6 separate regions of the Homo sapiens genome follow, and regions 1, 2, 3, 5 and 6 are each linked to region 4. Evidence: fine-mapped expression QTL. A gene starts in region 4. Each other region holds a variant in brackets. All regions are shown on one strand. Distances are from middle to middle. Region 1 has its middle 3.7 kb from the start of FBXO10. Region 2 holds the start of POLR1E (RNA polymerase I subunit E). Region 3 has its middle 7.7 kb from the start of PAX5. Region 4 holds the start of GRHPR (glyoxylate and hydroxypyruvate reductase). Region 5 overlaps ZBTB5 (zinc finger and BTB domain containing 5). Region 6 has its middle 82 kb from the start of MIR4475.

Evidence for each region. PIP is the estimated chance that this variant, and not a neighbour inherited with it, causes the effect.
Region 1: its variant is fine-mapped to the expression of GRHPR in whole blood (INTERVAL, PIP 0.99).
Region 2: its variant is fine-mapped to the expression of GRHPR in whole blood (INTERVAL, PIP above 0.99).
Region 3: its variant is fine-mapped to the expression of GRHPR in B cells (Schmiedel 2018, PIP 0.91).
Region 5: its variant is fine-mapped to the expression of GRHPR in whole blood (INTERVAL, PIP 0.97).
Region 6: its variant is fine-mapped to the expression of GRHPR in spinal cord (GTEx, PIP 0.98).

Annotation. Positions count from the first base shown.
Region 1 is chr9:37,577,514-37,582,586 of GRCh38, forward strand. No RefSeq gene overlaps it. Among named protein-coding and RNA genes, the nearest start is that of FBXO10, 3.7 kb to the left of the region's middle. The variant T/C (reference allele first, on the strand shown) is at 3,033.
Region 2 is chr9:37,483,791-37,488,863 of GRCh38, forward strand. POLR1E (RNA polymerase I subunit E) reads left to right here and starts at 2,158. Exons shown (of 12, transcript NM_022490.4): 1 at 2,158-2,333; 2 at 2,913-3,016; 3 at 4,073-4,149. The coding sequence starts at 2,258. RefSeq lists an enhancer at 1,623-2,214 and a silencer at 1,956-2,285. The variant G/A (reference allele first, on the strand shown) is at 2,596.
Region 3 is chr9:37,039,410-37,044,482 of GRCh38, forward strand. No RefSeq gene overlaps it. Among named protein-coding and RNA genes, the nearest start is that of PAX5, 7.7 kb to the left of the region's middle. The variant C/T (reference allele first, on the strand shown) is at 2,527.
Region 4 is chr9:37,420,494-37,425,566 of GRCh38, forward strand. GRHPR (glyoxylate and hydroxypyruvate reductase) reads left to right here and starts at 2,203. Exons shown (of 9, transcript NM_012203.2): 1 at 2,203-2,340; 2 at 4,352-4,482. The coding sequence starts at 2,258. RefSeq lists enhancers at 1,549-2,174, 2,175-2,800, 4,475-5,073 and a silencer at 2,015-2,164.
Region 5 is chr9:37,458,893-37,463,965 of GRCh38, forward strand. All of the region lies in intron 1 of ZBTB5 (zinc finger and BTB domain containing 5), which reads right to left. Among named protein-coding and RNA genes, the nearest start is that of ZBTB5, 4.0 kb to the right of the region's middle. The variant A/G (reference allele first, on the strand shown) is at 2,175.
Region 6 is chr9:36,738,648-36,743,720 of GRCh38, forward strand. No RefSeq gene overlaps it. Among named protein-coding and RNA genes, the nearest start is that of MIR4475, 82 kb to the right of the region's middle. RefSeq lists an enhancer at 1-957. The variant T/C (reference allele first, on the strand shown) is at 2,402.

The DNA.
Region 1 (5,073 bases), 160 kb after region 4:
ACCTTTTAAAGCAGTATGTCAGCTACTATGTGAAGACAGGAGTTAAGGGTGGAAGCAGAGATTGGTAGCTTAACCTATTAACTGGGCCCGTGGAGGTGCTATTTATTGAAATGGGAACTATTGTAAGGGGAATATATTTGGAAGCGGGGGGAGATCAAGAACTCCCATTTGAACTTGTTAAATTTGACACTGCCAGTTAGAATGACTATTAACAAAAAGACAAAAAAATAACAAATGCTGGTGAGGACATGGAGAAAAGGGAACTCTCATACACTGAATTATACAGCCAGTATAGAAAAATGCATGGAGGTTTCTCAAAAAAGTAAAACTAGAACTGCCATATGATCCAGCAGTCCCACTGCTGGATATTTATCCAGGAATGGAAATCAGTATGTCAAAGGTATGCCTGGATCCCCATGTTTATTGCAGCACTATTCGCAATAGCCAAGATATGGAAGCAACCTAAGTCTTCATCAACAGATGAATGGATAAAAAGAATGTGGCATATATACACAACAGAATACTATTCAGCCTGTCATTTGCAGCAACACAGATGGAACTGGAGGTCATTATGTAAAGTGAAATAAGCCACGCATAGAAAGACAAATATCACATGTTCTCACTCATACGTGGGAGCTAAAAAGTTGATCTCATGCAGTTGGCAAGTAGAATGACAGTTACCAGAGGCTGGGAGGGGAAGGGGATAGAGAGAGGTTGGTTAATGGGTACAAACATGGATAGAAGGAATAAATTTTAGTGTTCAATAGCACAGTAGGGTGACTGTAGTTAACAATAATTTATTGTATATTTCAAAATAGCTAGATTTAAATGCTCCCAATACAAATAAATGATAAATTTTTGAGATGGATATTCTAAATACCCTGATTTGATCATTACGTATTGTATGCATGAGTCAAATATCACATGTACCCCATAAATATGTACAATTATCTATCAATTAAAAATAATTAATTTTGAGATGCCTGTGTGTCATCCAAGTGGAGTGATTAAAAAAGCAATTCACGGCTGGGCGTGGTGGCTCACGCCTGTAATCCCAGCACTCTGGGAGGTCGAACGGACGAATCACGAGGTCAGGAGTTTGAGACCAGACTGACCAACATGGTGAAACGCCGTCTCTATTAAAAACACAAAAATTGGCTGGGTGTGGTGGCGCGTGCCTGTAATTCCAGCTATCAGGAGGCTGAGGCAGGAGAATCGCTTGAACCTGGGAGGTGGTGGTTGCAGTGAGCAGAGATCGTGCGCCACTGCACTCCAGCCTGAGTGGCAGAGTGAGACTGTGTCTCAAAAAAAAAAAAAAAAAAGCAGTTCACTTGTAATCCCAGCTACTCAGGAGGCTGAGGCAGGAGGATCGCTTGAACCCAGGAGTTTGAGACCAACCTGGGCAACGAAGCAAGACCCTGTCTCTAAAAAAGAAAAGGAGTTGGATACAGACCTCCGGAATTTACGAGAGAATATCAGCTATAGAAACATAATTTACCAAGAATACTATGAAAAAGAAATTATTACACGAAATTGTGGCCTGAAATAATTGACCCCGTGGTCCTACTGACCTTTTTCAGTCCCTGGTTCTATAGAATATATTCCATAAAAATGTATTCCATCTATTATTACCATATGGTGAATGTGGTATGATTCTGGGTGAGGTCTAAGTTACCATGTAGCTGGTCTCTTTTATAAATAAGAAAACCAAACACTAAAACCTAAAGCCAACAATTTATTTTAAGACACAAAGTTGTACAGTAGCTAGGTATAGTAGAAAGACCACAGGGGTAGTCTCACACTGCAATGAGCCTGATGATTTACCTTGCTGACTGACAAAGCTATGCCATATTTAATCCTTTGAAAAGTATCTTACTCCATGAAACTGGCAGTCCAGATATGACTGTCAATAAACAATCAAAAGCTTGAGTTTCTGGATTTGTGCCAGCTAACATTATCATTTTGGTATTTGTATAAAACAGCTGACTTTCAAAGTGCTACAGCAGTGTCCTACAAGAGCAAGCTGTCTTCCCTATTAGTGGGGCAAGCATCACGTGCCACATGGGAATTTTTGTTTGTTTTGAGATGGGGTTTTGCTCTTGTCGCCCAGACTGGAGTGCAATGGCATGATCTTGGCTCACCGCAACCCCCACCTCCCAGGTTCAAGCGATTGTCCTGCTTCAGCCTCCCCCGTAGCTGGTATTAACAGGTACCAGCCACTAGGCCCAGCTAATTTTTGTATTTTAGTAGAGACGGGGTTTCACCATGTTGGCCAGGCTGGTCTCAAACTCCCGACCTCAGGTGATTCGCCCGCCTCAGCCTCCCAAAGCTCTGGGATTACAGGCATGAGCCACCACACCTGGCCAGGGGTTTTTTTTTTTTTTTTTTTTTTTTGAAACAGAGTCTCGCTCTGTTGCCCAGGCTGGAGTGCAGTGGCTCAGTCTCAGCTCACTGCAACCTCCACCTCCTGGGTTCAAGCGATTCTTCTGTCTCAGCCTCCCAAGTAGCTGGGACTACAGGCTTTCGCATTTTCAGTAGAGACAGGGTTTCACCATATTGATTAGTCTGGTCTCAAACTCCTGACCTCAGGTAATCCACCTGCCTCGGCCTCCCAAAGTGGTGGGATTACAGGTGTAAGCCAATGCGCCCAGCCAAAAATATAACTACTTAAATATAAGAACATCATTCACAAACTACAGTTGAGCCCTCTCTTCTTTCTGCCCTCATCTCACCTCTGCATGCCTCTATCCTACCATTAGACTCGAGAGGAAACTTACTCATCTTTATACACTGGCACCTGGCTGGTGTTTACTGGCAAATGTATAAGTGAACACACAAAATCTCCTCAGCCATGGGAGCTTTATTTACTTTGCTTTCCAGAAAAAGTAGGCTCACACAGAGTGGTGTCCCAGGTCAACATAGTGGACATGCCATGCTTTTTGGCTGCCCAGCATCTGAGGTCCCTTCCTACATTTGGGAATTCCTTGTTTATGAGTTTGCTGGGAAGCAGAACATGCCTTTCACTATAGAAG[T/C]GGAAATTCCAGGTATTTTCTCTGCTTCTCCTTGTGATTCTATCATGCTACAAATTACTCTTGATTTTGAATTAAGTACCAGAGACACAATAAAGTCTCTGGAATAATTTTCTCTGGGACCATGGCAAGTGCGGCAAGTTCTTAGAGCAACACTGGCTGCCATGATCCAGGGTTCTGTGCATGTGGCTTTGGCAAAGTAAGTGGTGGCACCTAATGTTCAGCAGAAATGGCGTCCTCACTGCCCCAGCTCTGTGGAGTATGACCAAGGAACAAAGGGTGATGTTCCAGTTGCCTACTCTCCAAGCCTAATTCTCTAGGCCTCCTGGTGATACTGAACTCCCTGTTATCCTTTTAATAAAATACTTTTCTTTTTCTGTCAAAATTGGATTTTGGTGTTTGCAACTAAAAAATCTGACTCACATAGTCACATGATAAATAGCAGAGCTGAAACTATAATCTAGGACATTGAAATCCTAATTCTAGTATTCTTTCCATGTAGACAGATCTCTACTTTCCAACAACCCACAATTTTTACATTACATATCGCTGTCCCTAAATCATTTTGTTCACCGAATTTATACTTGAATATGTAAGCTGATTAGTGAACATTTCAAGTGACTGTATTTCAAATGCAGTATTATCTTTGTACATCTGTTTATGTAATAGTTTCTTTCTTTTTTGCATTTTTGGCCTCTATATACTTAAGTGGAAATGAAAATACCCCGCACTTGAACAAACGTGGGAGTTAGGGGCCCCGACACCTGCACAGTCACAAATCTGCATGTAACTTTGACTCCCCAAAAACTTAACTACTAATAGCCTACTGTTGCACAGAAACCTTACCGATAACATAAAAAATAGATTAATATGTATTTTGTATCATTATCTATTATATACTGTATTCTTACAACACAGTAAGCTAGAGAAAATGTTAAGAAAATCACAGAGAGAAAAAGCATTGACAGTACTATACCGTATTTATTTAGATTCTAAGTTTAGGTTGTCTGTTTACAAGATTAGTCGTGTCTGAAATCAGAGCAACTACAGCTGCAGACCTCAATCTATAGTACATATCAAGAATTCAACTTTTTCCTTTAATGTCATGACTTTTCTCTGCTTCCTGGGAGCACTTCCAGCATCACTAGTGGCACTCTGTATAGATCCCATGGAGTTATTCAAAGTTTTGTGGTATGGTATTAAACACAAAAAATACATGAGACAGAGAGGGATCGCTTTTACTTTGATTTGCAATTTACTGGAGCGAGGAACTGCTCATGCAGAGATGAGTGTCACATGGCATTTTAAGTGGATACCTATAACACTTGAGCTCCCTGCAGTGGCAACAAGAGGTGGCTATGGACTTACTGTATTACACTATTACAAAAGATAATTTTATGCAGTTATGATTTAATACTGCATCTTTCTCTTGACCTCAAATTGTGCTATGTATGGTCTGTGTACATAAGTTTTGATAAATCTTAATTTTTTATAATAGATGTGTGCATTTTATGAGTAAGACTACAATCTACATATATTTTATGCATTCATGACATCCTTTATCTTAAATTTTTTCAATATTTCTAGACTACATATGTGTGCTTTTTTCAAATTGTTGCAAATCTCCGATTTTTCAACGCATTTTTTGAAAAAAATCTGCACGTAAGTGGACCTGTGCACTTCAAATCTGTGTTGTTCAAGGGTCAACTCTACTATTACTAATGTGACTGAGAAAAAGATGAAAAACTATTAGACACGCTTAAAGTAGATCTTTTTAGCCTTATAATGACTGTTGGACTAAAACCAGCTGTGTTTTATTTCTGAATGAAAGAAACAATTTAAGAACATATTTCATAACTCTGAAAATATTTCGTATGTTTAAAAGACAAAGTGCATAAATGATTTTGTAATGTTTTACATCTCAGTAACAAGTATATTCAACTTTTACATATGTGATTTCTATGTTTTGTGTACTTATGCTAAAGTAGGCAACTGACACCACATAGGCATATCTGTAATACTGAGCATACACAAGTAGCATGTA
Region 2 (5,073 bases), 63 kb after region 4:
TTCAACCAATATTACCAAACATCTTTGAGTTCCAGTCCCTGTGCTAGGCTTCCAAGATTAGTGATAATTCAGGCCCATTCTTTGCCCTGTCATTCATTAATTCATTCCATATTTATTGAGGGTCTAGTATGTTCAGGATTTGGAGATAAAGCAGTGATCAAAACAAACATAAATTTGTTTATTAACCTCCAAAGTGTTTATTGTGAACCCCAAGTAAGTTTAGTGAGGAAACAATCAATGGGTGAGACAATCACACAATTAAGCTCTTCTTTCTTCATCCTTCTTTCTTCTTTCTTCTTCTTCCCTTTTCCTTTCCTGAACAATTCAATCCAAAATCATGAGGTGGGGTCAAGCAAGGTAGCCTTCTAAGGGAGGAAAGGCTATGAGAGCTAAATGCAACACATGATTCTTGACAGGACATTTTTGCTATAAAAACATGATTGGGCCAGCTGCAATGGCTCACGCCTGTAATCCCAGAACTTTGGGAGGCCAAGGTGGGAGGATCACTTGAGCCCAGGAGTCTGAGACCAGCCCTGGCAACACAGTGAGACCTAGTCTCTACAAAAAATTTTTTTAATTAAGAAAAAACAAAACAAAACTGAGTGTGGTGGCACACACTTGTATTCCCAGGTTGTGGTGAGAGGATCACTTGAGCCTGGAAGGTCAAGGCTGCAGTGAGCCCTGGTTGCAACACTGCACTCCAGCCTGGGTGACAGAGTGAGACCCTGTCTCAAAAAACAAACTAACAACAAACGTTGGGACAATGGGTGAACTTAAATGGGATGTGAGGATTACATGGTGGTAATGTACCAGTGCTAATTTCCTGATTCTTTTCTGTTTAATTTTTTTTTTTTTTTTTGTCGCCCAGGCTAGAGTGCAGTGGCACCATCACAGCTCACTGCAGCCTCTGCCTCCTAGGCTCAAGCAATCCTCCCACCTCAGCCTCCCGAGTAGCTGGGACGACACGCGTGCGCCACCACACATGGCTAATATTATTTTTTGTAGAGACAGGGTCTTGTTATGTTGCCCAGCCTGGTCTCAAACTCCTGGAATCAAGGGATAGAACTGCCTCTCCCTCCCAAAGTGCTGGGATTGCAGGCGTGAACCACTGCGCCCGGCAATTTGCTGATTCTGATGGCTGTGTTGTTATTTAGGGAATGTCTGTAGGAAATACTATAGTCTTCAGGGTTGAAAGGGTATCAGGTTGACAACTTACTCTAAATGGTTCAGGGCAAAAACATTTCTTGCAGTGTTTCTTTACGTTTGAGATTGGGTAATTAGAAAAGCGTGACAAGTGCTCAGGCAAAGGGGCATGCAGGCTTTAGGGTTATTCCTAGGATCCTGGGTGTTGGAGGCGGGTGTTGAGGGTGTGTGGAAGGAAAAGAGTCTTGAAAGAAGGTGATTTGGAAGACAGAGGGGAGTCAACCGGAGTTCTTGCCCTTCAATAGTACGCATCTTTGGGCAAAGGGGGCCTCGGCCAGCGTCCATGCTTAAAGGCCCTGCTTTCGCCTTCTTTCTGCTCTGAAAACTCCCCGTGCAGAAGAAGGGTTGAATCCGCAGTGAAAAAGGGACATGTCCATCAGCTCGGACTCCCTCTTCTATTCCAGTCCAGAATCTCCTGCCCAAAGGCTCCGGGGTTGGCTGGGCTTCTGTTCCATCACCTCAGTGTTGATTGGGCCACAGGTGTGCACGCCACAGCCCATGGCGGGGAGCTGTTTGTCGGACTGTGGACAAAGTTTGTACCTAGAGCTGGATGTCCACGTGGGTGGGTGGGAAGCCCTAGAGAGGGGCGGCTATTCGCCAGCGGCCACATTTAGTTGGGGCTCAAGCAGTTCCTGTCAGAGAATTCTAAATTTGAACTTGGTCCTTCAGGTCTTGGGAAGATGAGTTTGTCACGGTAGGAGAGAGAGACGACACTCTCTTTAGAAGGTGCTGAGCCGGAAGAAGGCTCATAGCAAGCTTAGGCTGAAGCCTTTGGCGCCTCGGGCTCTGGACCTACAAAACCCAGAGTGCACGCGAGCGCTGAGCCAATCAGGTGCTGCGCCTCGGCCAGTCAAGCGGGTGTGTGGCACCTTGTGGGCGGAGACCACGCCTCTCTACGCGGGGGGCGGGGACACGCGGCTCGCGCGCTGTGGGCGGTGCCCGGCGGGGCCACGCCTTTTCCGGCCCGCAGCGCGGCCTGGGCTCCCGCGTGTTTAAAAGTGCGCTTGTGGCTGCTGCTGTCTTAACTCCTGTGCTTGGCGGACAGACAGGCGAGATGGCGGCGGAGGTGTTGCCGAGTGCGAGGTGGCAGTATTGTGGGGCGCCCGACGGGAGCCAGAGAGCTGTACTGGGTAAAGACTGCGGAGCTGGAGCAGTGCTCCTCTAACCCTCTCCCCTTCCGTCTCGGTACCTCAGCTGTCCTCTCGCCCTCCGTTGGGCTTCTCCCCAGCGGGGCCGGGACCCCTCTAGTCTCCACCACTCCCCTGGGCTCTGTCAGGGCTCCCCTGTCCGTCTTTCTGTCACTACCTCCCAGCCAGATTGGGACATCCCACTCACCCGCTCCCCAGAGCTGTGTCCAGGACCCTGCTGACCCCCTCACCCACCAGGTCTCCC[G/A]CCTCCCCCATTTCCCTCTCTTCACTGGGCAGGGGTTCCTTCTGTCACTTTAGGTATGTACCAGGCCTCTGCTGTCAGCCTCCTTCCGCGAGACATTCCCTCCTGTCACAGCCCCTCCCCAGGGTTCTCCCACCTCCCTACCTCCTCTTCTCAGCTGGCCCCGGATCTCCTCCAGTTCCCTTTGGGTCAGGACCCGAGCTTCCTTGCCATCCCCATTCTGACACTCCCTCCCAGTGACAGTCTAGTCCCACCGTACATTGTGTGGTACATTGTGTGGCCTTCTGCTCTCATCTCATTCTTGGGCTGCACTCTTACAGTCCAGTTCTCCAACGGGAAGCTACAGAGTCCAGGCAACATGCGCTTTACCTTGTATGAGAACAAAGATTCCACCAACCCCAGGAAGAGGAATCAACGGATCCTGGTAAGTGAAGCAGTTGCCAGCTGTCTCCACTCTGCAGGGCTCAGAAGGCCCCTGGGAGTGGGTGGATGTGGGAGGGAGTGAGGGGAGAAAAAGGGGAGTAGTAGCAAATGGAGCTTTGAAGAACTCTGATGCCCAGCAGCCTGGGATGTGGGGACAGGCTCCATCTTTCATTCATTTGTTCTTTCAACAAGCATTTATGGAACCTGCCCCTCTGCATCCCTGTGCTGCAAGCTTCTAGGAAAACAGCCAAATCAGGCCTAGCCCCACTCAGAGTTCATACTCTAGAGCAGGGTTTCTCAACCTCAGGACTATTGACTTTTTGGGCCAATAATTCTTTGCTGTGGGGGCAGCATCCCTAGTCTCTACTCATTAGATGCCAGTAGCACCAGAGTGGATTTCCCTGGATTGAGAACCTCTGCTCTAGAGAGATGAGAACTGGCTGTGAGGGACACTTTTACACAAAGCTCTGAGGCCACGTGGGGAAGAGTACAGGGCAGAGTGAGCTCAGTGGGAGGAGAGGTCTCTGCCAGAATGCCTTCCTTGGTGAGGTCATGTTGGAGCTGAGCCTTGAAGGCTGGAATGAGGGTTTGGCAGTCAACGTTTGGTGTTTCGAGTGAAAAGGATAGTGAGGACAAATGCAGAGAAGCAGGAAAGCTTGCTTATGATTGGGGAGTGAATCAGCCATGGTCCTGAGAGTATACAAAGAACAGGCCAAAGAGAGATTGCTTACAGAATCACTTTGTTGCATACCTTTAAGTGCCAGAAGCCCAGGGCCTCTCTCTCAAGTCTTGTGGCAGAATTCCCCCAAGAGCTTTTCATACCATTTAGAAGCTAGCACCATCTGAGGCTTCTCTTCCAGAAGTCGTCTTGCTTCCCCTGCAGGGACACCCCATATTCCCTTAGAGATAGTGGGGCTGGATCATCTGCCAGAGATGAACTAGTTCTAATCCATTGTGAGTCTGGATTCAAAAGCCTCAGCAAATGTAGAAAAGAGAAATGATGCTTAATACCTTTCAACATTGGTTGTAAATGGAGTTTCCCCTCTCTGCATTTTAGGCAGCTGAAACAGATAGGCTCTCCTATGTGGGAAACAATTTTGGGACTGGAGCCCTCAAATGCAACACTTTGTGCAGGTAATGGCAGGGGAAGGGACAGTGGGAAGGGTGATGGGGTTGGGAGTGGTGGCAGCACTGGCACTGCTGTTTCCTGTCTGTTTTAAGGGTAGCAGGAGCCATCTAGAGAGGTTTACTAGGTGATCCCTGTGTTCCTATTAGACCCAGAGCCCTTCCCTGCACGTGTAGACGTTGCTGGAAAGGAAAGATAACTTGAATTTCCTAAAAACCTCATTCATTTGTAATCTTGTTTATTTATAGCTGTCTTATTCCAAAAGGCAGGTCTCTCCATTAATTTGGAATGTGTGACTAGTAGGTCAAAGCTTGCGTGAAGTTTACCTGGGAACTAACGACAGGTAAAGAACTTGGTAGTGTTGAAGGCTCTGGACTGGGAAAGAGGAGCCTGGGATTCCCATCCAGCTGTGCTGCTGATTGACTGAGTGGCTGGGTAACTCTGCGCATCACTGACCCCCAGCCTCCCCCTCTGTACAGTGAAGATTGTCCAGCCTGAACTGTATCACTCTCGGGGGCTGGCATGATGCAGACAGGGCCCTGTGATGGTACCCAACAATGAACTACAAACTAGGCCCTTTCTGAGCCCCGGTGGACCATACTCCAATAGAGGAGAGGTCAGATGGGTGTATAGGTGCTGAGAACTATTAACCCTGCACTCTCCCCTCTCAGAGATGCCCTAGTTCCAATTGGTCTCCTCCCCGTTTACTTGATTTTGCCTCCATAAAACTGTTGTGCCATAAATTGTAGTGTAATTCTAGGTTCGTACACCCCAAAAGAGTTTTCCATTACACTACCGCAGTGAGCCCAAATGTGATCAACTATCAGAATCACCTAGTAGCTTTTTTTTTTTTCCCAGAACCACCTCATATCCTCCCATCCCATCCTATCCTTTCCTATTCCCTCTCTATGCAGAGAATTGCTGTGGGGTAG
Region 3 (5,073 bases), 380 kb before region 4:
ATGAAGTCTGGATTTGAGAACGTGCCGGAAATAAAACTGTGCTCTAAAAATCTTTCAGGTTTGCTGCTGATTAACTATCTTTAGCAACCCAGCCCAGAGTAAGATGGAAAAGATGAGCTACACTTGGGCCAAAGTGCCTTTGAGATGAGCCCTGAAGCCAGTCTCAGTGTTTAGCCATCACCAGAGACACTTCCCAAAGCCTTAACTTTTCCTTCACTTTGTACTGGAGGTGGGGGCCTTCTGGCACTGAATGCAAATCTACCAAAAAAAAAAAAATCCTCTACACAAAGAAAAATTAAAGATATCCCCTAATTTATTTTCGGTCAGATGAAAACCATCTGAAATATCTAATATGAGGAGCTTATGGACATAGAATCAGAAAGTCATTATCCCCCTAAATCATGAAAATATTTCTAATGGAAAATCATGACATTGTATCCTCGTTATAAACACATAGTGTGGACCTATCACATAAGGAAACTCCGTCAATCTACTATTACCTAAGAATCCAAAATGATACATTGGAAAGATTTGCAGTCTGAGGACAAAATATTCATACGAAATACGTACCAAAATAATCATGCTAAATTGTTCATACTGAAATGCTGCTATCCTTTCAACTAAAACAATCTTTAGAACAAGTATTGGCAATTTTCTGGACAGATCTTTATAAATCTTCCCAGCAAAACAATTAAGAAATATGTACTCAGATTTTATTTTTACAGGATATATGTGTGTATATGTATATATATTTTATGTATGTATATATTTACATATACATGCGCGTGTGTGTGTAAAGTTCTCTACCATAGGCAGGCTGAGAGTTCAAAGATGGGCTTTTCCTTGTTAGGTACAAATTCTTATAAACAAAGTATGAGATGGAAACAGTTTAGTGAATTTTTTCCTAATTTGGTACAGCAGTTGGTGTCTCATTTCTCATGCAATTTGCACGTAGACTCATGTACCCCATGAAGTGACAAAAGAGAATCAGGGATGAAAACCTGCCAGTGTCTGCAGGCGGTGCCTCAAAGCGCTCTTTTGGACACACGTTCTTGGTGGTGGGGAGTTTGCTGCCTCTAAACCAGGCCTGACCTTTTGTCTTTTGACCTCTGATGCATGAAATTAGGTAGCAAAAGAAAATGAAGAAAAGGATACAAAAACATGGAAAAACAGCCCTCCTTGACAATAGTCATTGTATCAGATCATAGCAGAGCTGCCCTACATAGCCCAAAGTGCTTGTTTATAAGGCTGCGGGTCTTCCTGGCCACTGGGTTCCTGTTCTTCTTTGTGGGCAATCTGCATTTGTTGGGGGAGGGACTACGCACTCTTTTTAATTAAGCTCAGAGCTGGGTTTTGTCTTGGCTCCTTTCACCAAAGCCCGTTTAGCGAGCGTTTGGCCCCTCCATTTCCTCTGAGGTCTTCTGTGTAGGCTGGGTGCCTGGGGGTACCACCTGGGGCAGCTTCCAAGACCCAAAGGAAAACTCTGCCCCTTCTGGCCACCCAGGCTGAAGCTGAATCCCAGCTGGCGTGGAGGGGAGAGGGTGGCAAGGGGTGGGGTCATGCTCCTTGGTCCTGAAGGAACACACACCCCAAGTGAATAGACTTCCACTCTTTCTCCAAACCCCGTCAGAAAGCCTGAGTCACTGGTGTTCCCTGCCCCCTCGGCCTAAGGAGTCAGCTCAGTACCCTCCCCTGTCATGAGAGCCAGGGAGGAGGGCAAGAACATTTGCAGAGATGCCTTCAGCAAGCCTCACACAACATCCTTTGATCCTCGAAGCCACCCTGGAAAGGGGTGCACAGCCCTGGGTTAGGAGCCACAGTACAATGGGCACCAGGCCCCGTCCAGAAGGGAAACAGGCCTCGACTTAGATGGTAAGAGAGTGAAGATGTGTGCAAGCAAGAGAGATCTGGGAGAACTGTGCCAGGTACTGAAGCCAGACTCTGGAAAGGGGGAGGCTGGAGGGGACATCTCTAGAGGGTGACCTGAGATGAGTGTTGAAGGGTAAGTAGGACTTTGCTAGATAAATAAGGAGCAGATGGCATAACTAAGATCTGCACTTTGCAGAAGAGGCTACTGGATATCAACATACAAGCAAAATACTGAAAAAAGAGCTGCCCAAGGGTTTGGGAACAATGTAGGAATGGCAAATGCTTCTGAGGGAAGGAATTCACAATGGTTTGAGGAACGGGACAAAGGAAGGAAGATGGCTAGAGTGGGCAGGCCCCTGCTGTACCTCATGAAGATGGCCAGAGCAGCAGCTAAGACATATTCTCTCCTTACCATATGGAGTAAATGGACCCACAGGCCAAAGGGAAGAAATAAGAGAAAGGCCCTAGGACCAAAGGAGAGAAACATAGCAAAGCTTACTCTCCATCAGTTTTTTGGATTTTTTTTTTTTAACCTTCTCCCCTGGGAAGTTTGCACAAAGTTCCCTCAACAACCTCAGTCTGGAAAAGCAAACCAACCACCCTCAGCCTGGAATGCTCCTCATGAACTTTACCAAATCCTCTCAGGCTGTAAAGACC[C/T]CCCCCAGAGCCGCAGCTGGTGGCCACCATTCTCTGCTCAGGCCACGTAGCCCTGAGCTCACCCTTCCTGTTACCTTATGGGTTGGAGATGAAGTGTCTGTGTCCAGTTCTCACCACTCCTCCTAGTCTCCTGGCTCCCATGGGCAGGACTTCTCCTTTGGGCACCAGCTCTTCTGGAAGTAAGTCATTCTGTTCCCTTATAACAGTAGCTTCTACACTTCAGTGTGAGAAGAATCACATGCAGATCCCTGGGCCCCAGCCCCAGAGAGCTTGGTTTAGTGCTATGAGACCGAGCTTGGAACCTGAACGTCTAGTAACTTCCCCAGGTGAGTAGGGTGCAGGAAGTACCTGGACCATCCATTGAGAAACACTGGCTTAAAAGCTTTTTCAGAGCAAGCACTAAGCCACTGTGATTCACTGACCCCTGCCCCACTCACCAGGTCTACACCTGTCTAAACACCCTGAACGAGAATTTGTGAGGCTGGCAACATCCAGATCCCCAAAGTATCAGCAGCCATATTGACAAACCATTCCTGATTTGCCCCAAAAGGACCAAAAAAAGTCTGACTTTGGTAATGGATGTGCCCCCTTCCTCTCATTTTAATTCAATTCTATTCAGCAAAGACAGCCTTGTGCTTAGTCCTGGAGGGAGATGAGAGCCTCCTGCCTCAAGTTGCTCGAAGCCACACTGAAGAAATAAGCCTTTAATCCACAGAAGAACTTGATCCGGCTTTTTTTTTTTTTTTTTTTTTTTTTTGAGACTATCTTGTTCTGTCCCCCAGGCTGGAGTGCAGTGGCACGATCTCAGCTCACTGAAACCTCTGACTCCCAGGTTCAAGTGATTCTTGTACCTCAGCCTCCCAAGCAGCTGGGATTTCAGGCACACACCACCACACTTGGCTAATTTTTGTATTTTTAGTAGAGACAGGGTTTCACCATGTTGGCCAAGCTGGTCTCCAACTCCTGGCCTCAAGTGATCCGCCCACCTTGGCCTCCCAAAGTGCTGGGATTATAGGCATGACCCACTGCACCTGGCCCAGGCTTTTAATTATATACAATTAGGAAAACAAAAGTGGAGTCCTCCCTTCCTGCTAAGGAAATCTATGAAGATTTCTTAAAGGAGGCAGCATTTGATCTGGAAGAGTGAGTTGGAAAAGAAAGGGAAAAGGATGCTACAGACCAACAGTTCAATATGATGAGCAATGGCTCGGAGGGAGAAAATGCTTGGCTTATTTAAGAACTGGCAAGGCAGGAGAATAGAGAGAATTCCCTGGTGATGAAATTGAGACCAGTTGAGGAAACAAGAGTCCTCAAGGACTGCATTAATCTTATTTTTTTTTTGAGACAAGGTCTCACTCTGTCACCCAGGCTGGAGTGCAGTGGTCCCACCATGGCTTACTGCAGCCTTGATCTCCCATGCTCAAGTGATTGTCCTGCCTCAGTTTCCTGAATACCTGGGACTACTGGCATGAGCCACCATGCCCTGCTAATGTTTGTATTTTTTGTAGAGACAGGGTTTCACCAGGTTGTCCAAGCTGGTCTCGAACTCCTGGGCTTAAGCCATCCACCTGCCTTGGCTTCCCAAAGTGCTGGGATTACAAGCATGAGCCACCACACCCAGCCTAGAGCAATCTTAAGGTCTGATCCACTTACACACCCCAGGGTTTGCTACTCCCAGGTAACACTCACGGGAACATCCGAACTTCCTTTGGAGATTTGCAAGACTCTCTTGCTGGCCTCCCTGGCTGAGCAGGAGTCACTATGCCTGCTTTTGTGGGCTTTTCTGTCTGCACTCTGTCTAGGGTTATTCCACTAGTGAGCATATCAGACTCCCCCTGGGTGCCACACTTATGTGAATGCCTTTGTCACACTGTCATGGCTCCTTGTCCTCTTCCCTTCCTCTCATGAAAGCAGTGAGACAGTGTCTGATCCCTCTTTGCAACCCCAAAAACAGCACAGGAGTTGCACATAAAAATGCTCATTTGAGAGTCTGATGAATGAATAAATGTGGTGAAGGTAAAATCCTCCCTGAACTGGTCCTCTGCAGCCCATGACTCTAGCTCTCACTTCACCACATCCTAGAAGCATGACGTCACCTCTGTGCCCCTCAGTTTGCTAACCTATAAAATGGGCAGAATAAGTGCCACCCACTCAACCTATTTCTCATGGCAATTGTGAGGACCAAATGATATAACAGCTGGGATTTGCTTCACAAAGTATTGTTAGGATGGGTTTGGAATTCCCCAATGCTGCTTACAGAAAATCTTTTTTTTTTTTTTTTTTTTTTTTTTTTTTTTTGAGACGGAGTCTTGCTCTGTCACCCAGGCTGGAGTGCAATGCCATGATCTCGACTCGCTGCAACCTCTGCCTCCCAGGTTCAAGCGATTCTCCTGCCTCAGCCTCCAGAGTAGCTGGGATTACAGGCGCCTGCCACCATGCCTGGCTAATTTTTGTATTTTTAGTAGAGATGGGGTTTTACCTTGCTGGCCAGGCTAGTCTAAAACCCCTGACCTTGCGATCCACCCGCCTCGGCCTCCCAAAGTGCTG
Region 4 (5,073 bases):
TTGTACATCTTTCCAGGGATATTTAACACACAGAAATAGGTGGCCAGGTGTCGTGGCTCACGCCTGTAATCCCAGAACTTTGGAAGTGGATCGCTTTGAGCCCAGGTGTTCGAGACAAGCCCGGTCAACATAATGAAACCCTGTCTCTACAAAAAATACAAAACATTAGCTGGGTGTGGTGGCACATGCCTGTGGTCCCAGCTGCTCAGGAGGCTGAGGCGGGAGGATCATTGGAGCACAGGAGGTAGAGGTTGCAGTGAGCCAAGATTGCACCATTGCCCTCCAGCCTAGATAACAGACTGAGATCCTGTCTCAAAAAAAAAAAAAAAAAAAAAAAAAAAAGAATAGGCATATACTTTCTCCTATAAATGGTAACATATGCACTTTGCATCACCCTGTTTTCTCACTGGACAGTACATCTTGGAGATCATTCCACACTGGTACGCACAGAGCTGCCTCACTCTTTTGATTGATGCAGAGTATTTCACTGTGGGAATGAAGCATACGTAATGAACAGTCCCCTATGAGTGGACCTTTAGGTTGTTTCCCATATTTTACTATTCCAACAATGCCACAATGAAGAGCCTTTGGCAGATGGCATTTTGCACATGTGTGAACGCGTCTGTAAGGTAAATTCCTAAAAGCAAAATTTCTGGGTCAAAAAAGATGTGCAGTCTAAACTTTGATAGCTACTGCCAAACTTTCTTATTGAAGTTGCTGATTTACACTCCTACCAGCAACGTATGAAAGCACCTGGTTCCCCAATGTATTATTTTTTACATTGGTATCTTGCTGTAATTTTAATATGCAGTTCTTTTGTGAGTCAAGTTGAGCACTTTTCATCTTTTGTTTTTTTTTTTTGTTTGTTTTGTTTTTTTTTGTTTTAGATGGAGTCTCACTCTGTCACCCAGGCTGGAGTGTAGTGATGGGATCTCGGCTCACTGCAACCTCCATCTCCTGGACTCATGAGCAATTCTCCTGCCTCAGCCTCCTGAGTAGCTGGAATTACAGGCATGTGCCACCATGCCCACCTAATGTTTGTATATTCAGTACAGACAGAGTTTCACCATGTTGGCCAGGCTGGTCTCAAACTTCTGACCTCAAGTGATCCGCCTGCCTCGGCCTCCGAAAGTGCTGGGATTACAGGCATGAGCCACCGCGCCCAGCCATACATTTAAAGGCCATTTTCTTTTCTATAAACTGTCCATTGATATCCTTTGCTTATTCAGATAAGCTGGGCATCTTTGTCTTAGGAACTATTTGTGCAATAAGTAAATCAACCCCTTGTCTATAAAATGAGTTGCAAATATATGGTATTTTTCCCGGTTTGTTGTCTTATGATTTTGTTAATTTTTTTTTTTTAAGATAAACATAAGCCTGGTATTTCCAGGCACCTGGTATTTCCAGGCAGTCTCCCATACAAGCCCTAACCAGGCTTAGTTTCCAAGATCAGATGCATTCAGGATGGTACGGTTAATTTTTCAATGGAGAATTAGTTGTACTCTTATGGCTTCTGGCTTTCGCACACATAGCGTATCACTTATTTATTGCTGCATAAAGAATTACTCCAAAATTGAACGGCTTAGAGCAACAGCAGTCAGTGCATTATCATCTCTTATGGTTCCGGGGTTGACTGGGCTCAGCCAGTGATTCTCCTAAAGGCTCTTTCTTGCAGTTTTAGCTGTAGTCAGGTGGGAGTTGGCCTGGAGTCACCCGAAGGCTTCCTCACTCATACCTCTGGTCATTGACGGTGGCTGTGAGCCGGGCCCCTGGCTGTGCTGTTGGCCTGAACACCTACACGTGACCTCTCTGTGTGTCCTGGACTTCCTCACAGCCTGGAACCTGGGTTTCTACCCTGGGCCAACCCAAGAGACAGAAAAAGTGGGGGCTTTCAGTCTCTTAAGGCCTGAGCCTGTGGAAACAGGACCCTGAGCGTGTAGAAAAAGCAGGGCTCCCATGAGGCCTTGGACGGGATACTGCCCCCTCTCCCCCGGGGCCCTGATTCCCCAGTGGCACGAGGCGCACCCCCCCACACACACACAAGGACACTGTGTAGGGTCACTGTTACTGTCACTCCCCGAGCACGCACAGTCACCGCTCAGCCGCAACCCGGCGCTCCCTCTCGCGAAGCCACACCCCCTGCGCACGCCGCGCGCGACGTCTCTCCCGCCCACTCCAGCCTGGCCCCGCCCCGGCCCAGCTACATTCCCGGGCCAGCTTCTGTACTGCCAGGTCCGGGTCGGCGGCTGCACTGCGGATGAGACCGGTGCGACTCATGAAGGTGTTCGTCACCCGCAGGATACCCGCCGAGGGTAGGGTCGCGCTCGCCCGGGCGGCAGAGTAAGAGCCTCGCGCGCCGTGGAGGAGGGAGCAGGGCGGTCCCAGGGACCGGAGAGCCGGGCGGGGCGTTTGGGCCTTGTGGCCGGCTGGGGCAGGCTTGGAGTTTTGGGGAGTCTCGGAGAAAGTTCTCTGGGGCCCAGTTCTCCTCTTAAGACGACGCTGGGACCTGCAGTTCCGGCTTTGGAGAGGGGAGATTGCCCCTGAGGCAAGGTCCAGGCTAATTCTCCACGCTCCCACAGGACATGTGGGGTCAGGGACATGGCGGTCACTGACCAGGCCCTTGGACGTTTGGCAGGGGGCTTTGATGACTCTTCTTCTTTATATTTACTTATCTTTTTTTTTTTTTTTTTGAGACAGTCTCACTCTGCTGCACAGGCTGGAGTGCAGTGGCTCGATCGATCGTGGCTTACTGCAGCCTCGACTTCTTGGGCCCAATCAGTTCTCCCACCTGAGCCTCCCGAGTAGCTGGGACTACAGGCGCAAACAATCACTACCGGCTAATTTTCTGATTTTTTTTTTGTAGAGATGGGGGTCTCACTCTGTTGCTCAGGCTGGTCTCAAATTCCTGGGCTCAAGCAATCCTCTTGCCTCAGCCTCCCAAAGTGTTGGGATTACAGGTGTTAGTCACCATGACTGGCCTGAGGACCCTTTAATTTTTAAGACAGGGTCTCACTCTCATCCAGGCTGGAGTGCAGTGGCACCATTATACCTCACTGCAGCCTCAACCTCCTGGACTCAAGAGATACTTCCACCTCAGCCTCCCAAGTAGCTGGGACTACTACAGGCATGCACTACCATGCCTGGCTAATTTTTTATTTTTTTCAAAGACGAGGGTCTCACTGTGTTGCCCAGGCTGGTCCTGAACTCCTGTACGAAGGGATCCTCCCACCTCAGCCTCCCAAAGTGCTGGGATTACAGGCATGAACCACTGCACCTGGCCCACCCTTGCTAAATGGAACCCTTTTTGTGGGCCAACCTTGCCAGGTGCTTCATATACATAAACTTTTAATCCTGGTAGCACTGTGAAGTCAGTATTATAATTCCCATTGCACAGATTAAAAACTGGAGGCTGGACTTAGGGTTAAGTTTCTTCCCAAAGCCATGCAGCTCCCAGGTGGAGGAGCTGGGGCTTGTACTCAGAAGTGTCTGACTGCTGTCTGATCACTGCATTTGATCAGGTTTGTGTTTCCAATGTTAGATAGGAAGAGGATGCAATCCAGCCTCAGCAGCCAGTTCTAGGGGCATATGAGATTTTCAAATTTTGTTCACTGCAACAAAACCTTTGCCAAGGACCCACTTTGTACTGAGCAGGAGAAGGTGGAAGGCAGCAACCGCGCCCATGGTAACAGTAGCTCACGCTGTACCCTGCTCATGGGGAGGTGGATGAAAGGTGGTCAGTGCCCTGGGCTCAGTCAGGAGGTGCAAGTAGCTATCCTGTGTCCTGCCACATAGAGGCTCCACACGTGCTGACTGTACTGAATTCCATGGCAAGGGCCAGGAGGCACCGTGCATCACTGGGACAAATATCTGGTTGCTGTGAGCTGCCGTGGAAGCGTTGGGTGGCCTTGACCTTATCTTTCCTGGCCCAGTCCAACTATGAGAGTTTTCTATTTCATGGACTCCACGGACAGGAAGAGATGCAACAGGCCATTGAATCCAGGCCCCCCACCTGAGGCACACCCTGCCCCCCACGGGCCTTCCCTGCAGTTGGCCGCCTGCTTGGCCGCCCAGCCCCTGTGAATGTGGGAAAGCTCTTCTCTGTGCTGACCTGAGAGCTGTCCCCATGCCTTCCCCCTTGCAGCTTAGGCTCTGCTGGGGGGCCCCTCAGCCCTTCACCTGTCACCTGCTGTCTCGGGACAGTTCTGAGACCACCCCTGCCTGACCCTGCCTCCCCTCAGCCAGCCCCGGGCAGCCTGAGGCCAGGGCCATCAGAGGCCAGGATTCCCAGCTGGGAGGGGCGGGGACAGGTGTGCGGCTCCTGCTTCTCCTGAGGGCCTCCCTTTCCCCGCAGCTGTGAGGTGGAGCAGTGGGACTCGGATGAGCCCATCCCTGCCAAGGAGCTAGAGCGAGGTGTGGCGGGGGCCCACGGCCTGCTCTGCCTCCTCTCCGACCACGTGGACAAGAGGATCCTGGATGCTGCAGGTGCACACTGGGTGGGCAGGGGACTTGAGGGTGGCTTGGCCCTGTGGGCCCCTCAGCCTGTGCTGCTGGCTCCTGGCTGCTCTGCAGTGCTGTCTGGGTTCTGAGGGCGTTTCCTGCGATACCAGGCCCGAGCGGGCAGATAGCTTGCTCTGGCACAGGCACTGCCCCTCCCTCCTGCTGTGAACCCCTTGGCGGGGGACCCTAGGAGGGCAAAGACCGCGGTGTGGAGACTGTGGGTGTGGGGAAGTGCATCCAAGGCCCTGGGTTCTCCAGCCCTGCCACAACCTTGCTCTGTGACCTCCAGCAAGACCCTGCCCCTTCTGGGCGTGTGCGTAGTATGAGGGAGGACCTAGCTCAGTGCCAAGCCCCAGCAGGATGTCTTTCCTCAACCGCAGCCACGGGTCTCAGCCCATGGAAGAATAAACCTCCCCCTGTGAGGCTGTTGTGACAGTTTTGAGAAAAGGTTCAGACTCAGAGGCTGCCAGATGGGAAGGGACCCTTGTGAGTCAGTGCTGAGCCGCCCCACATCCTGGCCTTGGCCTGGAAGCTTTGTGGTGTCCTGCTTGCAGGAGAGGGTAGAGAGGGTCACGT
Region 5 (5,073 bases), 38 kb after region 4:
CATAATTTCAGATTCCACATTGCACTAATCACTTAAGAAAATACCACTTGTGGAGTTTTGGTACAGTATCAGAGTAAGAATATCCAAAATTATCTGAAAAATCTACTGAAATAATCCTCCCTTTCCAACTACATATTTGTGTGATGCTGGAGTTTTTTGGTATATTTTAATCAAAATAGTGTATCACGGCAAAATGAATGCAGAAGCATTTAATGGAATCCAGCTGTCTTCTATTAAACTACATATTAAAGAGATTTACAAAAAATGTAAAACAGGGCATGGGCATGCCAGCCCCTGCTTCTCAGCCTGTACTCCCAGCACTTTGGGAGGCCAAGGCAGGTGGATCACCTGAGGTCAGGAGTTTGAGACCAGCCTGACCAACATGGAGAAAAGCCGTCTCTACTAAAAATACAAAAAATTGGTGGGGCGTGGTGACACATGCCTGTAATCCCAGCTACTCGGGAGGCTGAGGCAGAAGAATCGCTTGAACCTGGGAGGCAGAGGTTGCAGTGAGCCAAGATCGCACCACTGTACTCCAGTCTGGGCAACAAGAGCAAAACTCTATCTCAAAAAAAAAAAAAAGTTTTCTTTTCTTTCCAATCCCAACTGATGTGTAGCATAAACAACTTTTAAACATGTCTTTTACCCCTGACAGATCAAGAAACTTTTTTTTTTTTTTCAGGCAGAGTCTCACTCTGTTACCCAGGCTGGAGTGCAGTGGCACAATCTCAGCTCACTGCAACCTCCAGTTCAAGCAATCCTCCTGCCTCAGCCTCCCGAATAGCTGGGATTACAGGCGTGCACCACCATGCCCAGCTAATTTTTTTTTTTTTTTTTGAAATGAGTCTTGCTCTGTTGCCCAGGCTGGAGTGCAGTGGTGCGATCTCGGCTCACTGCAAGCTCTGCCTCCCGGGTTCATGCCATTCTCCTGCCTTAGCCTCCCAAGTAGCTGGGACTACGGGCGCCCGCCACCACACCTGGCTAATTTTTTGTATTTTTAGTAGAGACGGGGTTTCACCTTGTTAGTCAGGATGGTCTCGATCTCCTGACCTCATGATCTGTCCGTCTCGGCCTCCCAAAGTGCTGGGATTACAGGCGTGAGCCACTGCGCCAGGCCATTTTTTTTAATTTTTAGTAAAGACTGGGTTTCATCATATTAGCCAGGCTAGTCTCAAGCTACTGACCTTGTGATCTGCCTACCTCAGCCTCCCAAAATGCTGGGCCTGGCCAAGAAACTTCTTTCTTAATGAAAAAAATTAGTCCAGCTAGGCACAGTGGCTCACGCCTGTAATCCCAGCACTTTGGGAGGCCGAGGCGGGTGGATCAACTGAGGTCGGAAGTTCGAAACTAGCCTGACCAACATGGAGAAACCCTGTCTCTGCCAAAAATAAAAAATTAGCCGGGCATGGTGGTGCATGCCTGTAATCCCAGCTACTCGGGGGCTGAGGCAGGAGAATCGCTTGAACCCGGGAGGTGGAGGTTGCAGTGAGCCAAGATCGCGCCATTGCGCTGGATCCAGCCTGGGCAATAAGAGTGAACACTCCCCCCCCAAAAAAATTAGGCCAGATGCGGGGCTCACACCTGTAATCCCAGTACTTTGGGAGGCTGAAGCGGGAGGCTCATTTGAGACCTGCTTGGTTAACATAGCAAAACCTTTTCTCTACAAAAAAATTTTTTTTTAATTAGCTGGGTGCTGGGCATGGTGGCTCACGCCTATAATCTCAACATGTTGGGAGGCCAAGGTGGGAGAAATGCTTGAGTCCAGGAGTCTAAGACCAGCCTGGAAAACATAGGGAGACCCCCACCTCCACAAAAAATACAAAAATTAGCTGGGCGTGGTGGTGCATGCCTGTAGTCCCAGCTACTTGGGAGGCTGGGTGGGGGAGGGTTGCTTGAGCCCAGGAGTTTGGGGCTGCAGTGAGTTATGACCATCCCACTACACTCCAGCCCAGGTGACAGAGCAAGACCCTATCTCAAAAGCAAAACAGAACAAAGTAGAAAGAAAAAAAAAAACTAAACTTTTATCAAGATGAAAACTATGACAAAGCTTTGGAGACACTATTATTATGGTGCCTTTCCAACAGAGAAGATGAACATGGACTTAATCCATTTCTTACACCTAGTTTACTTTCAAAGCAGTATATGCCTTCACTTCTCAATCATTTATCAAATCA[A/G]TAATGCTCAGCAAGTGACCTTCACTTGACCTGCAGAGTTGCTTTTGATCATCTATTCAAAATAAGTACAATCTAAGTAACTTAAATGTGTTTAGATTTTTGTAGCATTTCTGGGCTCCTCCCACAACCAAATGCCCAAACACTGGATTTTGTTTTCCTGGTCTTCCTTCCTCAAATCCTCTTCGCAAAAAAGACTAAACCATAAGGACTATAAAGGTGAAAGCCTTGTATTTTTAGAGGAAGATGGTTGAGTGGATTTTAAATTATAATTGACTAAGATGTACTGAAAAATTAATTATACCATGTCAACAATATCATGCATAGAAAAAAAGGGGAGCAACTCACCCTAAACATTTTAAACTTAAGAAAATGGCAATCAGCCAGGTGCAGTGGCTCTCATGCCTGTAATCACGCACTTTGGGAGGCCAAGGCAGTCGGATCACCTGAGGTCAGGAGTTCAAGACCAGCCTGGCCAACATGGCGAAACCCTGTCTCTACCAAAAAGTACAAAAATTAGTCGGGCATGGTGGCACGAGCTGTAGTCCCAGCTACTCAGGAGGCTGAGACACAAGAATCATTTGAACCCAGGAGGCGGAGGTTGCAGTGACCCGAGATCAGATTATGCCATTGCACTCAAGCCTGGGTGACAGAGTGAGACCCTGTCTCAAAAAAAAAAGTAAATTAGGAATAAAGGCATTTGTAAACCTGTTACCATACAAAGTAACAGATTACCAAGTATAATTTCCAAAAAGTAGACCTATCACTTAATCATCCTTTAAAATTTGTAAAATGAACATTTTATTTGTTAATTTCCATTTACATAAGGAAAAATATCACGCTCGATAGGCTTCTTTTCAGTAACAAACATTTTCCAGAGCAGGAAAACGAATTAGGAAAATTTATTGGTTACAATTACAAGGAATTAGTTGGGTACAAAAGTCTCTTTATGGGGGATAGGCAGCCAGGATTTTACTATGTTGCCTGGGCTGGTTTGAACTCAAGTGATCCTCCTGCCTCAGACTCCCAAGTAGTTGGGACTACAGGTGTGTGCCACCTGAGCTAAAATTCTATTAATTTTACCAAATTTCATTAAATCTAAGATGTCTGTGATTATAAAATGCATTATTTCATGTAACACTAGGAAAAAAACTGCCAATTAAGCTATGGCATAATGCTTACTTATGGTATCCTGTCTTCAAGGAAGGAAAACTGTCTGCCAATGACTACTATGATAGAGGCAGGAGACAGACAAATGCCTAGGCAGACAGGGGCACATCCCCAGTGAAACCCCACCTCCAAGCCGAAGACAGTTTAAAAGCTTGAAAGCCAAGCTACAAGTCAAATCCACGGACCAGATTGAGAACCTGTGTTCCCATTTGGCATGCTTTCCTCTGACTGATCCCCACCCTTCACCTATTTTACATATATCTACCCCTTTCCTAATTGGTTTTCTACACTGTCGTGCCCACCTTTGAGTGGTGTCTTTGCTTTAACCGTTTTTTTTTTTTTTTTGAGACAGGGTCTCACTCTGTCTCCAAGACTCCAAGTGTGCAGTGGCATGCTCTCAGCTCAATGCAACTTCTGCCTCCCAGGCTCAAGCGATTCTTCCGCCTCGGCCTCCTGAGTAGCTGGGATTACAGGCGCACGTCACCATGCCGGGTTAATTTTTGTATTTTTAGTAGAGACAGGGTTTCACCATGTTGGCCAGATTGGTCTTGAACTCCTGAGCTCAGGCAATCTGCCCGCCTCAGCCTCCCCAATTGCAGTAATTACAGGCGTGAGCCACCACACCCGGCCTTCCCTTTAAACTTTTTGCATCAGAAACCAATCAGCACACACTCCCCATTCTGAGTCCCTAAGAAGCCCCGGAACCAGCCACACTGGGAAAGAGACCACCCCCTGCATGCCCTCTTCTCTGAGAGCTGTTCCATCACTCAATAAAATTCTTCTCTGCCCTCCTCACCCTTCGAATTGTCAGAGTAACCTAATCTGTTTGGGATGTCAAGATAAATCAAAGCTTTTAGGAAATACATGTATAACTAATAAAATGAAAGGCACCTCTAAAACTGGATCTTGAAATTAAAAGCTACTATTCAGTGGTGAAAATGATGAGAACATATGCAAAGAGCAATAGTTCACTCAGAAACAGCTGGTCTTTTAGGAGATGAGAAGTTCACTTCATACTTAGACAAAAGGCATAGTGTAGTGCTACATTCCATCCCACCTGCTACACTAACAAAACTGGCTCTACTAGACAACATCCATATTTGAGAAATATTACGTACAGTAAAAGAAAAATCACACGCTTAAAACTGACAGAGGGGGAAAGTATTTAAAATTAATTTACATTAAAAAAAAAGTTGAAAGCTAACATAGAATCAATACCTTGGGTTCTTTTTTCCATTTCCAAAACGAATGTGAGCCAGATTCAAGATTCTCTGTCAGCACTACACCAGGTTTTGTCAATTTCACTGAACACAAGATATTTTAAAGTCTCCAATTCGATATAATTCATGCTGAGTTCTTTAAGTACTATTTGATATCCCAGTGATTTTTTATTACTTCCACTTTGGGGACAGTCTTGTGAGTCTCTTTTGAGAGCGTTCGCTCCTAAGTCTGTAAGATGCCTTTCCTCCAAATCTTACCATTTTCAGAATTCTGCTAGAGACATATCAATTAACCAAAATCCAGCTTGCCAGCATCCTCAGCTAACTAAAAGTTATGTTTTGACACAACTTTTAGGGAAAAGGGGCAAATCTCTAGTAAACGAGTTGACTTCAGGACTCTTCAAAAAAAGAGTCTGTTTATTCAGCAAAACCCAAGGGCCCAAAACAGGTCCCCACCCAAGTAGTCTTACCTGTAAGGTCACCAAGCTGGCTGTGGTGGCCAGGTCAATCTT
Region 6 (5,073 bases), 680 kb before region 4:
AAGGCTCAGCCATTTCAAACTCCATCTAACTTCCACCAAGCTTCGAAACTCTGCCTGAATTTAAGATCCTCTGAGCCTTGGGATCAGAAACCCTCTTTTCCAGGTGACTCAGTAATAAGACGTGACTCAGTAATAAGACGGCCCCTCCCTTCCTGCTCCTTAGAGATGAGGCCTTTCTAAAGGACTCACAACTGCCTCCATGGTTTTGAATGTTTTAAAATGTAACTTGGCCTTGAGGGTGGATCCAGGCCTGGCTGTGGAGTGAGGTTCTGATGGATTCTGGGGCGGCAGACCTCTTGAACCATCGAAGCGTGCAGGCTGATTTTTAAAAATAATTGTCCTTTTTAATGATGTAAAACATGTCATCTAGATTAAAAAATAAACACACTTTATTACTTTCCCAGTCTTTTCTTCCTCCCTCCCAGGGCCAGATGGGGATTGCTTGAATATTTCTGGCGTATTTCACATATTTAATAACGCCCTTGGAGGTTCTTCCAGAACTGATAAAAATGTGGGATAGACAGTGTTCACAGAAAGGAAAGCTGGTGGTGTGTGTTCGTGTGTCGGGGTGGGGGTGGGAGATGGGGGGGGGCATCTGTTTTGGAAGCAAGTCAAAAGGCATGTACTTTTTATCTTGAGCAACAAAGGACATTGTTTCACTGTCTCCCCGCCCCAACTCTTGCCTTTTGGGGGTTGGGGGAGCAGAAGGAAGAAAAGAGAGAAAAAAATCACTGCAGCTAAAAAAACTAGAGCGGCTTCAGAGAATCAGTCCTTCCCCCCTTCCCCGACAGCTTTCCACTAGCTCTCTTGCGCTACAGCGAATCCAAGAAAATAATTAAAGCTTTAATTTATTTATACGTCTTCTCTATAGATATTATAGATCTCACAATCGCCGCCTCCTAATTTATGCACGCAGAGCCTGCGGCAGCTCGGAGCCGCCAGGGTTGGGGGGTCCGGGCCCCTCGGAGCGGGACGGCTGTCAGCCCCCGCGGTGGCCGCACAAAGGCTGGGGTCCCGGCGGGCGCACCTGGGTGATGGGCACCTCCCGAGACTCCCCGGGACGGAGGCCTGACAGCGCGCGGCGGCCGCCTTAATAGACTGCGGGATGTTCTCCGGGAGAAGGCTGCGCCGGTCCCCGAGGACAGATCATCAGGCAGAGTGGTCCCCGGAGCAGGATTTATTAGCAGACAGGATGGGGAAGTTGATTAGCCTCCGCGGCTGAACGGACATCCTGTCAGACAGGCCTCTTAATCCAATCACTTACCTGTGGAGGGGAGCCGGCTGCCTCCTCCTGGCCCCCTTCCTCCTCCCATGGCACCTGCGGGGCCACGCGGGGTGCTCCGGAGCCAGGGTACACAGGCCAGGCCTTCCGTGCCTGGCCTCGCTCTCTGATTCAGTCTCGTGGTTGATGCAACCTGCAGGCTGCTCTTTTGGGCTCACTGCCCTGGTGGTGACTCTCCCGCATAGAGACCTTACCTTCTGTGGCTCCCTCTTCCCCACTCAGGAAAATCCCCTTCCCCTCCCTGGGCTTGCCTCATTTGACCCTGAACCACCTTTCCAGCTTCAGCCTCCACTAGTCCTTCTCTTGAGTGGCCTCTCTCCATTTCCTGAACCTCTCCTGCCTGCCCCCTGCCCTTGCTTCAGGTATGGGGTCTACTTAGACTGTTCTCTCTCTCTCTCTTTTCCCCCAAATCCTTCTTGTCCTCCAGGGTCTAGCCCACAAGTCTCATCTTCCCTGATTCCATGCCCCCTCCCTCCAGGCCCAGGTAATTTCCCTCTCTTCTGAAGCTTTATCCATCTGTGGTGGGTGAGGATTCCAGGCCCAAATCCTGCTTCCACCTCACCAGCTCTGCAGCCCTGGCCAGATGACCTCACTGGCCTCCCCTTCTGGGGATGACAGCAGCAAGTTCCTCCAGGGTCTGCTGAGGACCAAATGAGAGGGTGCATGTTGAGAGCTGGCGGTAACGTCCAGCCCACAGCAGCACGCAGCGGTAGGTGATTGTTTCACCCTGGATTGGGATCATTCTGTATGGTGGGGTCTCCTTCACAGTGCTGAGTTCCATTAGGACAGGGGCCAGGCCTCACCATCTCCTCCCTCTTTCCGTCTCCCTTGCCCTAACACCAAGCACAACCCTTTCCAGATAAGATGGCTGAATGTTTGTTGAATGCATGGGGCAACCATCTGCCACACAGTGGACCAAGGATGGCGAACCCTCTCTCGGAGTGACCCCACGGGGCCCCACCTTTGGCTTACCTGACCATGGAAGAAGAAGGACTGTGAGGGACAGGGCCTCCATCTGCTTCTGTGGGGCGGGCATTGAGATGTGTGTTCTCTCCAGCTCTTGTCAAGAGTTTAGGAATTCAGACCCTATTGATCCACTGCGTCTTCAAAGCCATCTGT[T/C]ATCATTAAGAAACAGGACCTGAGCCCCGGATGCAGCGGCTGGCACTGGGTAATTTAGAGCATTTTACACACACACACACACACACGCACACACACAGAGAGAGAGAGACATGGCTAAAAGAAGTTAGCTAAGGCAAACATTGAACACTTGGCAGGCAGGGAGGGAAAGAACCAGGGGACTCATAGAAACCAAAGGTTTCTACACCGCTACATTAAATTCTACTTCCTGGTCACAGATTTTCATGGTTGATTGTAATCGTCTATGGGCATTTGACTTTGGCAAATGTGGATGCCAAGGTCTCACCCAGGCCCTGCCACCTCCTACTGATGTCTGTCCCTTGCTGCTCACAACCGTCAGTCTTGACTGGGTTGATGTCAAGGTCACTGGTCCCTAGTTTGCGCCATCTTCCTTATTTTCCTTTAAAACAAACCAGAATAACATTTGCCAGACCACAGTTGTCAGGCAACTTTCCCATGCCTTGGTGTTTCTCAAAGATTTCTAGCTGTGCCTGGGTCATTTTGGTGTGGCAGAATTTACCACTGGAAGAAGATTCAGAGCAGGGGCCTGGTTAGATGCTGCTACTGATTAGACGTGTGCTTCTAGGTGGGGTGGCATGGGAGAGTGTGGGCACTTAACCGAACCTCACGGAACCTCAGTTTCTTCATCTATCATATGGGGATAATATTTGGCCCACTACTACAAAAGGGGAGATTTAAGGGTAAGATGAGGTGCTTGATAGGAATGTGCTTTTAAAAGCACAGTACTATACAAAATTAAGGCATAACTACTATCAGGAGATTGTGCCTAAAATATCTAATACTCTCAGTGCTAGGTGCTGGAGAAGTAAAGGTGACCAAGCCTCACTCTGCTCTCAGTGAGTTTCACAGGCTAAAGGGGGAAACGAATATGGGGACGCTAACTAAGCAACCAGCAGGATCCGTCCAACTGGACCTTGGGTCGCCCTTTCAATCCTGGAGCCCCTGTTCCCTACAGCATGTGCCATCAGAAGGGGCTCCGGCCAGCACAAGGTCAGGCAGCTGTGGCACTGCCCTTGTTCTGCTGTTTGATTCAATGGATGAGATGGAGTAAACATGGAGGCTTCTCCTTTTAGGATGGGGAGTTTATGTCTTAAGAAAAATGACAGATGCCACTGAACCTTTTTTATGACAGATTCACTGAACACTGACGTCTGTTGATTGTGTCAATAGGGAGAAAGAGGGTAGAGAGCTGAAGAAATTCCTACCCCGAGCTACCCTCTCATCCATGTATCTTTTTTTTTTTTGTCTCCAGTCCTTGCTTCGGGAATCTCTGCTCAGACCTGCAGTGCCCTCTCCAAGGGGGATCAGCTAAAATGCCTTCCATTGCATGGATCCTGAGCTCCCCCGACAGGTATGGCAGCTGGTAACTGCAGCTTCCCTACCCCTCCCCCAAAGGGGCAGGTGCACAGCTCTGATCTGGGGCTCCTAGAGGCAGAAGCACTCTTCCGGACTGTTCTGTAAGTGATTCTCACTACGACTGGGAGGAGGGAAGGGGACTGTTGTCCCAGCCTCTCCCATTCTGTGCCTCCCTCTGCCCAGTCTATGGGCACCCCTTGGGGCCCCAGAACCCTTCTTAGGTAAGCAGGAGTGCGTAGGATGCAGCACCAATGAGGAGAATAAATTTGCTCAGGTGAACATCCCCTTATTGAGGGAAGGTCCTTACGTTTTCAAGATGATTATGGCATTAGAGCTCAGAGTGCAAGCGCATATATCTCAACACAGATGAGCTACAGGGCCCCGATTCCTCTGCCTGTTAGGGGCTGACCTCTTGGGATAAAGCAAGGGGCCGTGACTCAGATCTGAGGAGAATAAACTGGTATTTGGCTGAAATCACTGAATTGACTGAGACTAGGGGCCTGGCCCCAGGGCATTCTGGGGTCGAGAAGTGGCCCCGTATAGACCTGGGACTATGGGGCTCTGTGGTTCTCCCAGGCAGAGTCCCCAGTCCCCATAAACTGCGGCCTGTGCTACCCCATGCTCCTCCCCACCGCTGTCCAGAACCCCCATGCCTGCTCACACCCTTGAGCGCAGACAGAAGAGGACCCCGTGGTTCCTAGTGGGAGGGGTGGGTAGAATGAGCAGTGCTCTGGCCCGCACAGTCGCCTGATGCTGGCTGCCTGTGCTCAGCAGCCTGGCAGGTGGGAGGAGGGAGACAGCTGGTTGGGGTTTTGGGAACAGGGACCATGTTTTAATAATCTCCATATCCCCAGCACAGAGTGGGTGCTAGAAAATGTATTGTTGAATCAAAGGATAGTTGAGTAGGGGGCCTGCAGATGGCAAGGCGGGACAGGGCCCTGCAGCCTGAAGAAACTGCATGAGCAAACGCTGGAGGTGGTCACAGTGCCAGGTAAGGCTGAAGGGGGAGTGGCAGAGAACTCACAGCTGGAGGGATGTACAGGGCTGCCCACTTCAACCCCTCCACCTCTCTCAGAATGCTGAGCTCATTCTAGAGCCCCAGCAGCAGCCTTCCTGGAGATAATCCAGCTGCACTTGAAGTCTCTGGAGACATGGAGCTCATTCTTCCCTTGACATTGCTTTGTATCTTGGGCGTCTCTGATGGATACAAAATGAACTTCTTTCTTAAATGAAGTGGGCATTGATTCTTTTTGGAGCACCTACTGCTCCTCAAGCTG